2 separate regions of the Homo sapiens genome follow, and region 1 is linked to region 2. Evidence: fine-mapped QTL for protein levels in blood plasma. A gene starts in region 2. The other region holds a variant in brackets. All regions are shown on one strand. Distances are from middle to middle.

Evidence for each region. PIP is the chance, under the fine-mapping model, that this variant and not a neighbour inherited with it causes the effect. Protein levels are from antibody-based Olink assays in UK Biobank. Linkage for the fine-mapping came from a reference panel and not from the study's own genotypes, which makes the PIPs less certain.
Region 1: its variant is fine-mapped to the plasma level of the BOLA1 protein (UK Biobank, PIP above 0.99).

What each region holds. Positions count from the first base shown.
Region 1 is chr1:149,907,404-149,912,779 of GRCh38, forward strand. It overlaps SV2A (synaptic vesicle glycoprotein 2A), which reads right to left. Exons shown (of 13, transcript NM_014849.5): 3 at 4,397-4,577; 4 at 3,423-3,574; 5 at 3,167-3,300; 6 at 2,398-2,487; 7 at 2,058-2,168; 8 at 1,789-1,877; 9 at 639-803; 10 at 297-430. Among named protein-coding and RNA genes, the nearest start is that of SV2A, 7.8 kb to the right of the region's middle. RefSeq lists enhancers at 2,774-3,275, 3,276-3,775. The variant A/G (reference allele first, on the strand shown) is at 3,004.
Region 2 is chr1:149,894,797-149,900,149 of GRCh38, forward strand. It overlaps BOLA1 (bolA family member 1), which reads left to right and starts at 4,772. Exons shown (of 2, transcript NM_016074.5): 1 at 4,772-4,876; 2 at 5,214-5,353. The coding sequence starts at 5,264. LOC124904412 (a long non-coding RNA gene) reads right to left here and starts at 4,752. Exons shown (of 2, transcript XR_007066597.1): 1 at 4,682-4,752; 2 at 580-925. RefSeq lists an enhancer at 4,806-4,865.

The DNA of each region.
Region 1 (5,376 bases), 13 kb after region 2:
TTTTGGATGATTTTTACCTTCTTCAAAAGTGCATTAATTTTACCTCACTGAGTTATAATTTCAGCCAAAGGCAAATAAACTTGATGTTTTTGTCAGATATTCTATTACAGGAAAATGTCCAACATCCATTAGATTTTCAGAATTATTGGTGGTAGCTATCAGGCCCCTCTGCCACCTTCCCACAGGGGTCCAGGGATCTCAGCTTGAGAACCCTAAGATAGTGAATGAAAAAGGTTCCTTCTCATCAAGGTCCACCCAACCCTTTGGTCTGACACCCACCAGCCACCCCGCCTTACCAGTGTTATAGAACACAGTGTTGATGAATGTGCAGTTGCGGAAAAACGTGTTGCTGGATGTGACATCCTCAAAATAACACTCTTCAAACAGGGAATCCTCAAAGGACACTGACTTGAGCCGCAGCCCAATGAACCTGTAAGGCCAGGATGGTGAAAGACACTCCCCCGTCATCCTCATGCCCCCTCCAAGACTCACTCTTTAGCGAAGTAATGGGAAGCTGGGCATTGAGAAGAAACCACAAGTGTTTGCCCCCCAAATGTCTTGTCTTGAACCCCTAGACTCATAAAAGAGACGAGGTAGAAGGAACAGGGAAGAAGTGAAGTTTAAAAGTCCCCACATACTTGTCATTGAAGTACTGCCCGCCTCGGTGGATCTGATTCTCCAACGTGAAGTTAAAAGTTACATGCTCTACGCGCTCCCCGGGGAACACTTTGGTGCGGGATGCGTAGTCCACTGCCTGGAGATGGCGGATCATGTCAGGAAACCAGACGGTCAGGCCATAGTAGCTGAAGAGTCAAGGACAATGGAAACAGACAACAGGGCTTCAGACAAGGCTCAGAGATTAGAATCAGGCAGAGGAGAAAACGGAAATGTGTATCATCTCAGAACAAGGGAGAAATGGAGTCAACCTCTGTTAGGACCTTGCTCCTCTCCAGCCTCACCAGCTTCTCCCTGCTCCTCCCTTCAACAGTTGCTGCGCTCCTGGGGGACTTCAGGGTCTCGCACAGCAGCCACTATACTTTTTCTTACCTCCCAAGCATTTGCTTTTCCCTCTGCCAAAAACACTCTTCTCCACCCCAGCCACCCCCACTCCACCTGTCTGACTCCCATTCACCTTTGAGGACTTAGGTCCCCACCCCAGCCCAAGCCCCAAGTGCTCCCACTGCCCTTCCCCCACCCTTCTCTCATCACCCTGCTTCATAGCAAGTTTCGTCTCACTTCTTTTTTTTCTTTTGAGACGGAGTCTCGCTCTGTCACCCAGGCTGGAGTGCAGTGGCGCGATCTCGACTCACTGCAACCTCTGCCTCCCGGATTCACACCATTCTCCTGCCTCAGCCTCCAGAGTAGCTGGGACTACAGGCGCCCACCACCATGCCCGGCTAATTTTTTGTATGTTAGTAGAGACGGGGTTTCACCGTAGCCAGGATGGTCTCGATCTCCTAACCTCATGATCCGCCCGCCTCGTCCTCCCAAAGTGCTGGGATTACGAGCCTCATCGTCCTGCTTCTTAACCAAAACATAAACTCCAGGAGGACCTTGGACCACATCTGTTTCATCCCAGCACAGAATAGAAACTGAATCCTGGTCAGCCTACAGTACAAGTTTGTTGAGTGAACTAGCGAAGTAGAGGAGCTGGCTGCAGGATCAGAGGGGGTCTGCATGGCACCTTCCCTCATCGCTTGTCCCCTGCATCTCCATTCTCCCCACCTCTCTCCCAGCCCACACACCACCACAACCACCACACATCACCCAGCCCACCCATCTCCTCACCTGAATGACATGGTGAACCACACACCCATCATCATCAGAGTGATGCGCCGATATTCGGGACCAAAACAGGAGAGAAAATTCCCCCAAACCTACAGGGGACCAGACAAAGTCAGACCTTGACTATACTAAGTTCTAGCACCCATAGATCCCCACTTTTCTGCCCTCCCACCTCCCTTCAGCTCACCCATCACCCACACACATAGACTTCAGTCCTGCCTTCTTCTCCACTTCCCCCACTCCCTTCTATCTACCACCCCGTCCACCATTACCTGCCCCCCTAGGCTCAAGGCCCGGACCCCCCAGCGCTGGTACCAGGTCCCTGTGTCCGACTGGATCTCAATCAATTCATCCTCCTGATGAATCGTCTTAATGTGGGTTACCTGGGGTCAAGAGAAGGGGTGGGCAGTCACACACTCTGTGTTTCCCAACATCGGCCAGGCGCCTCAGTTTCCCCTGCATTAGCAAAATGGGAGGCAGGAGGTGGATATGATACCCTGAAAATCTCCTTACGGTAGAGTGTGGTCTGAGGTGGGGGGTACTCAGAGAGGGGCCAGGTAGGGGCTGGGGCTGCAGGGCGTGGAGGTCTGAGTCGGGAGGGCTGTGGCTTACTGAGAACACTCGCTCAGGATGTCCTTTGGCTCGCATGTTGGTATCATGGACCTGCTTCAGCACCATCCAGGCCTCATCATGCTTTCCATTCTAGAGCCAAAGACACAATCCCCACATCCAAGTCAGCCCCTACCTGACCCAGAGTTATAGACCCCCTCCCTCCCACCTGGCTTCTGTAGTCACAGGACACTAAATGGTTCCCAGCCCTCAACCCCACCACCAAGCCCTGACCTATGGGCATGCACTCACCACTCTGAAAGAGCCCCAAGCTGAGGTATAGCAAGACAATCAGACTTGGGCAAGAGCTGCGGGTTGGGGGTGGGGAGTGTTGTCCAGGGGAAAAAGGCAAGCACAGGTCTTGGGAATTCCATAGTACAGAGGAATGTAAAAACCAAAGGTAAGGGAAATGATGGGCAAGCATGTAGTCAAAGACCTAATCCTGCTGGGGTTAGGAGGGGAAGGTATAGGGGGTGGGAATGTCTCTTGAGCTGTAAATGCAGGACAGGGCCAAGGCCCTTCCCTGCAAAATCTTAAGTCATCCATGGGTAAAGAGGTCCCCTGGTTTCTCCACCCAAGAACCCCTCAGGGACACATTCCAAGGCAAAG[A/G]ATGCAAGATAAAGTCCCCTGGAGAGTGGACTCTGTGAGGAAGGCAGGCAGTCAAACAGGATCAAATCAAACTCCAGTTGGTGTTTGAACACAGAAGCCCCTGCTGCCGTCCACACTCCACAGCCCGCACCCCACCCCACCCCATGCAGCTCAGCCCCATCACCTCTAGGAAGAAACGGGGGCTCTCAGGCTGCGTGGTCAGAGCCCCAATGGCAAACACAGAAGGAAAGGCGCAGACGAGGACGAAGACCCTCCAGCTGTGGAACTGGTAGGCAGAACCCATCTGAAAACTCCACCCTGGTAGGGAGAAAGTGACAGCATCAGCAGAGAGGCCAGAGGCTGGGGGAACCCACCACAGGGAGCACAGAAGAAGAGGGAGGAGGGAGATAACCTGGGGTGGATTTCCGGGGGCTGCTCACCATAGTGGGGGATGATGGCCCAGGCCATAGCAGCTGCGTACACGCCACCAATCATCCAAAACATGCAGAGCCAGCTCAAATGCTCCCCTCGTTTCTCCTGGGCCAGAAACTCGGAGAAATAGGAGAAGACAATGGGGATGGACCCTCCAATCCTGAAGTGCATTTCAAGAATTCAGCATTAGCAAATGGCCATAGTCCTGATCCCCTGCCCCACTGCTCTGGACCCCGAGCCCCTTTTGTCTTCCAGGCTTTTGAAGAGACTCCATCTCACACATAAAGCCTTACAAGCTCCCATGTGGGCCAGCCATCAAGCACCCATCCTTGGGACCATGGGAAACAGGCAAGCGAGTCTCAGGGAAAGGGAAAGAGCAAATCTTAAATCTTGAAAATGAATTACAGAGTTGGAAGGGCGGGAAAGTAATTGCAGAAAAGAGAATAAATCTCCAGAGAAAAAAGACAAGCCAAAAGCCTCCAAGGGCAGATGTTGTGGGAATGGCCAGAAAGGAGCTTGGAGTTGAAGCAGAGTAAGCGGGCCTGCCATGCTTGCAAAAGTGAAGGGGCAGTGCGGACAAGGCGTCAGGGTTCTGGCAGGTGTGGGTGTTAGCAAGGTTTGTTGTGTAATGCAGGAAATGTGTAGACTCTGGTAGGGGGTAACTCTGGGTCCACAGGAGCCCAGGGGTGGGGCTGAGGCCCACTAGGCCTCTTTGTGGAGGCAGGCTCAAAAATGGAACTAGAGGTGGGGTGGAGGACTCAGGAGTGGGCCAAGGAACAGCATTCTGGACAGCAGCAGACAGGTCCTGGGCAGGGAGGAGCTGGCCTGAAGATGGCTGGGGGAGAAAGGAACTCATTCATCCGTTCAACTCACACAGATTTAAGGTGCATTTGGTGTGCCTGGCACTGTGCTGGGCCCTAAAGATACAACAGTGACCAAGGCACAGTCCTGCCCTCAAGGGACTTAGGAAGTGTACACTCACCCAACCCCAGAAAGTAGGCGGCAGAAGAGGAAAGTGCCGTAACCCTGGACAAAAGATGAGAAGAAGGCGAAGACGCTGTTGACTGAGAGCGAGATGAGCAGACACTGCCTCCGACCCAGCCGGTCAGCCAGACCTCCCCAGAGGAAGGCTCCCACCATCATGCCCAGGTAGACGATGAGGCCTGGAAGGAGGAGGAAAACAGGCAGAGGGGGTGTGAGCAGACACACCTTAATTCTCCCAGGAGATGAGCACTGAGGGAGCTGAAGGATCTGAAAAACTTCTAGAAGGTAAGTCTACCCAGAGATTAGAGCAAGTGAGAGAAAATGAATGGTGTAAGCAAAGATAGAAGATCATCTCTGCAGGCCAGGGGTTCAAAGGCAGGAATGAAGATATGGGAGAACCTGCAAACTCTCCACTCTCTTCGGTCTGTCTCATTTCTCACTCTGACACACACACAGTGACACCTTTACCCCTGGCTCACTTTGAAGGAGGAATGGGTGTGCCTAGGATCACAGACCACCCCAGGGTCCTCTCTATTCTCCCTGCTTTGATCCCTCAAAGCAGCAGGAGAGCTCTCATTTGTTCCTGGGGAAAGGGGCTCCAATTCATTTCATCTTCCCAGGAAATCTCCCACACAAAATCCATCCTTTACTCCTTCCAGTCTCAATATTTCTGGTCCAAAAACTCTCCTGTTTTTCACTGCCTTCATAAAACCAAAGCTGGAATTAATCTTTAAAATCATCTACTCCAAACTTTGCATTTTCCCATGCCCAAACCAAGCCCCAGGAAGAAGAGACCTGTCCAAGACCCCATGGCAATTTGGTGGCAGAGTAAGGCCTCGATTCTTTCTCTGTGAGTCTACGGGGTTCCTCCTCAGAGTCCCTGTCAGGAAAGGCCATCAAAGACTACATCCTGTCCCCTGGAAACTCCCATCTGAGTGAGAGAAAGTCTAACCAGCTTCTCTGGCAGAAGATCCAGGA
Region 2 (5,353 bases):
GAGTATCTTCCACAATTACAGACAGAAAAGGAATTTTATAGTGGAAAAGCCTGACAGATACCATCTTAATCAAGTGATCAGAACTATCACTAGTAATAACAAAAAGATCACGTGCCCTGGTAAGGTTCACAGAGAAGAATTCAACATTACTTCTGCAGTATTCCAGCCAAAAATGCATGTGCTAAATTTTAATCATAAAGAAACATCAGACAAACCCAGATTGAGGGACATTCTACAAAATAAATGTCTGTAACTTCAAAATTACCAAAGTCATGAAAGACAAAGAAAATCTAGGAAACTATTTCAAGTTAATGGAGAACAAAGAAATATAACAACTGAATGCAACACGTCATCCTAGATTGGATCCTGGACCAGAAGATATTTCTTTTCATTTTATATATATGATAGTAGTGGAACAATTGGCAAATTTTGAATAAGGTCTGTAGATTAGATAATAGTACCGTATCTGTGTTCATTTCTAGAGTCTGACAGTTATATTCCGGCTATGTGAGAAAATTTTTTTTTTTAAGTAAATATACATCAGTCAGGATTCTCCAGGGAAACAGAACGAATGGTAGATATTTTGATAGATAGTTTTATTATAAAAAATTGGCTTTTTGATTATGGAAGCTAATAAATCCCAAGATCCCCAAGATCTTCAGGGTAAGTTGGCAAGCTGGAGACCCAGGAGAACTGATGATATAGTTCCAGTCCAAGTTCAAAGGCCTGAGAACCAATGGTGTAGTTCCAGTCCAAAGGCCGAGTCTAAGACCCAGATGGAGCCAGTGTTTACTTCTGAGTCTGAAGGCTGAGAAAAGCCAATGTCCGGGTCTCAAAGCAGTCAGGCAGAAGGAAGTCTCTCTTACTCCGGAGTGGGTCAGTCTTTTGTTCTAGTCAAGCTTTCAACTGGTTGGATGGGACCCACCTATATTAGGGAGGGCAATTTACTCAGTCTCCAATTCAAATGTTAATCTCATTCAAAATACTCTCACAGAAGCACCCATATTTGGCCAAATATCTGAGCACCAATCCTCTAGAAGTTGGGACATTAACCATCACAGGCCGTGCGTGGTGGCTCACGCCTCTAATCCCAGCACTTTGGGAGGCTGAGGTGGGTGGATCACCTGAGGTCAGGAGTTTGAGACCAGCCTGGCCAACATGGTGAAACCCCCCTCTCCACTAAAAATACAAAAATTAGCCAGGCGCCATTGTCCACGCCTGTAATCCCAGCTACTCAGGAGGCGGAGGCACAAGAATCACTTGAACCCAGGAGACAGAGGTTGCAGTAAGCCAAGATTGCATCACTGCACTCCAGCCTGGGCGACAGAGTGAGACTCCATCTCAAAAAAAAAAAAAAAGTTAACCATCACAGGTAGAGTTTAATAGGCTTTATCTCTGAAACTTAGTCTCAAACAGTCCAGAAAATAATTATATATTTGTAGATAGGTACATACAAATAAAACAAACAGTGAATTGTTAATATTTGGGTAATCTAGGTATCAGGATAAAGGATATACAGGAATTATTTGAACTGTTTTTTTTAACTTTAGATGCACAAACCTTGTAATTATCCTTGACACTTTCCCTCCCACAACCAAGCCATTACCACACCCTGTAGGTTTTACTTTCCTAATATACATCCTGTAGCCACAATTTCTCTCCATTTCCACCACCACCACCACCACCTTGGTCCAAATCATCATCATCTCTCACCTAGACTGCTACAGTAACCTCCCAACTTGTCTCCCTGTTTCCACTCTTGCCTCCTCTACAATCCATTCTCCACCCTGAAGCCAGTGATCTTTGCAGAATACAAACTTAAAGTCAGCTAAATGCAATGCATGATCCTTGATTGGTTTCTGAAAATTAAACATTTATAATGTTTACTTAGACTGTGCTGCTATTACAAAATACCACTGACTGGGTAATTTATAAACAGAAATGTATTTTCTCACAGTTCTGGAGGCTGGGAAGTCCAAGATTACGGCACTGGCAGGTTTGGTATCTAGTGAAGGCCAGTTCCTCATAGATACGCCATCGAGGTGACCTTACATGGCAGAAGGGACAGAAGGGGCCAACTTACCCCCTCAAGCTCTTTCAAAAGGCGTTAGTCCATTCTTGAGGGTGGAGCCCTCATAGCCTTATTACCTCCTAAAGGCCCCACCACTTAATACCAACACCATGGATTAATTTTCAACATGAATTCTGGAGGAGACATATTCAAACTATAGTAGACACCAATGAGACAGTTGGGGAAATCTGAATATCAACTGTATGTGATTATAGTATTGTATGAATGTTAAATGTCTTGGATGTGGTAATGGTATTGTGGATATGTATGAAAATGTCCTTGTTCTTAGGAGATACACATTGAAAGTACATAGCAATTAAGTGTAAAGAATTTTGTGGGGCCAGGCGCAGTGGCTCACGCCTATAATCCCAGCATTTTGGGAGGCCGAGGCGGACTGATGACCTGAGTCAAGACCAGCCTGACCAACATGGAGAAACCCCGTCTCCACTAAAAACACAAAATTAGCCAGAGTGGTGGCGCACGCCTGTAATCCCAGCTACATGGGAGGCTGAGGCAAGCAAATCGCTTGAACCCAGGAGGCGGAGGTTGCTGTGAGCCAAGATCGCACCATTGCACTCCAGCCTAGGCAACAAGAGCGAAACTCCATCTCAAAAAAAAAAAAAAGAATTTTGTGGCTGGGTGCAGTGGCTCACGCCTGTAATCCCATCACTTTGGGAGGCTGAGGCAGGCAGATCACTTGAGGTCAGGAGTTCCAGAGCAGGAGGATCACTTGAGGTCAGGAGTTCCAGACCAGCCTGGCCAACATGGTGAAACCCCATCTCTACTAGAAATGCAAAAAAATTTAGCCAGGTATGGTGGCACCAGCCTGTAGTCCCAGCTACTCAGGAGGCTGAGGCAGGAGAATCACTTGAACCCAGAAGGTGGAGGTTGCAGTGGGCCAAGATGGCGCCACTGCACTCCAGTCTGGGCAACAGAGTGAGACTCTGTTTAAAAAAAAAAAAAAAAAGAATTTTGGGCCAGGCGCAGTGGCTCACGCCTGTAATCCCTGTAATCCTGGGTGGCCGAGGAGGGTGGATCACCTGAGGTTGGGAGTTCCAGACCAGCCTGATCAACATGGAGAAACCCCGTCTCTACTAAAAATACAAAATTAGCCGGGCATGTTGGCACATGCCTGTAATCCCAGCTAATCAGGAGGCTGAGGCAGGAGACTTGCTTGAACCCAGGAGGCAGAGGTTGCAGTGAGCCAAGATCACGCCATTGCACTCCAGCCTGGGCAAGAAGAGCAAAACTCCATCTCAAAAAAAAATAAATAAATAAGATTTCTGCACCTAACTCAAGTGATTCAGCAGAAATAATTATTATTATTTCATTATTATTATACACACATACATTAAAAGAGATACAAAGCCAAGTCTGGCAAAATCTTATCAGTGAACCTAGGTGAAGAGTGGATAAATGGGTTGCTCATTGTATTAATCTTGCAAATTTTCTGGAAGTTTTAATTTTTTTTAAAGGCTAGGGAAAACAGTGTATGTCATAGTTTAAATTTCTTGAGTGTGATAAGGTTATTGTGGTTATGTATGAGAATATCTTTGTTCTTAGGAGATACATATTGGAGTAGTTAGGGGTGAAATGTCATGCTATCTGCAACTTACTTTCAAATGGTTCATCCAAAAAAGCATATAAATATATTTTAAAGTATATGTAAAGTACTTAAATATATGAGTATATATGTACAAGTATAAAATAAATATAAATGCAAAAAATGGTGGGTCAAGTGAAAGGTAGAGGGTGTTGCTTTGAACTATTCAACTTTTCTGTGGCTTTGACATTTTTCAAAATGAGAAGTTGGGGAAAAACATTTAGAAATATGTAAATATATTAAGGATACAAAATAAAATTTAAATAATTTTACAAGTTAAGAATCATCCTGGAAAAATTACATCCTGTTACATCCCTGCTTAAAACCTCAGTAGCTTCCCACTACTTCTAGGATAAAGACAAAATTGCCTAACAAGGGCTACAAGGCCTGGGGTGGTCTGGCCCGTTCCTCTCCTCCTGGTACCCTACTCATCACCATCAGCTGCCCCCTAGGCTCCAACCACACATAACCACACCCTAACTACACCAGAAGGAAAGACTCCCTCAAAATTCTCTCTCCTCCTGTCCTTTACACATGCAGCTACCAAAGCCAAAACCTCACTATGAGGGACTGAGAAATGGATTCTCATGTTGTTTCTGCTGAACTGTTTCCCTAAATCTCGGAAATATTCTCTGCCCGCCTCCCATTCCACCTCTCCAACCCCGGCCAAGTCTGGGTAACTTGCCTCCTTAGCATCCTGTGTTTATCTCATCGTAGCACCTAGTACCCAGTATTGCAATTGTCCGCTCACTTGTTAGTCTTCAGTGCTCTGTTGTCTCCTTGAAAACAGGGCCTGACTTGACTCCCCAGTCCCCAGCACTAGTCTGGGGCACAGTAATTATGTATTCAATCAGACTTCCATTTTCTTGCATATAAAATAAAGGAGTTGGGCTGGATGATCTACAAGATCTATTGGCAGTAAAATAGATCTAATAATCCCAATCCCAACTGCGCGTGAATTCCCTTTTTCTTTGCATTGCTGGGTTCAGACTTTCTGACCACCTTACCAGTGGGGAGAATCCGAGACTACAGTTCCCATGAGCCCTCAGGGCACCACGTGGTGCCTGCCCGTGCTACCAACGCGCAGCGAGGACTCCATTTCCCAGCGTGCCTCAGGAAGGGCGCCAGGACTGCATTTTGCTCCGGAGCGTCCAGAGTCCTGGCCCTGAGCGGGAATCGCAGTGGCCGAGGCTGAGCGGCAGGTAGAAGGGGCGTCTCCGGGGCTTCACAGGGAACACAGGGGCTTCGGCCCAACCACAAGTACGCAGTTGCACATGCCCTACTTTTGCCCATTCTTTGCAAATCCCCTAAGGAACGAACGCGCCTCGCGTGCGGGCCTTTCTAATCTTCGCTTGTCCCTTCACTTCCACAGCTGGAGGTCGAATTCACCACGTCACGTAGAGAAAAGGGGCGGTGTCTCGGGTCTCCCCGTGTGGCATCAAGGCGGGCTCCCTATAGGAGCTGGTGTGGACGTCCGGGCGTGGGGTTAGGGCGGATGCGGGGATCGCGGGGCGGGTGTTGACATTGTGCTCTCACCAGGCGGATCGCCCCGACCCTCACTCCTGGCGTCTGAGTCTCTGGCGTAGCCCATGCTGAGTGGGCGGCTGGTCCTGGGTCTGGTCTCCATGGCTGGCCGCGTTTGTTTGTGCCAGGGCAGCGCGGGATCCGGGGCCATCGGT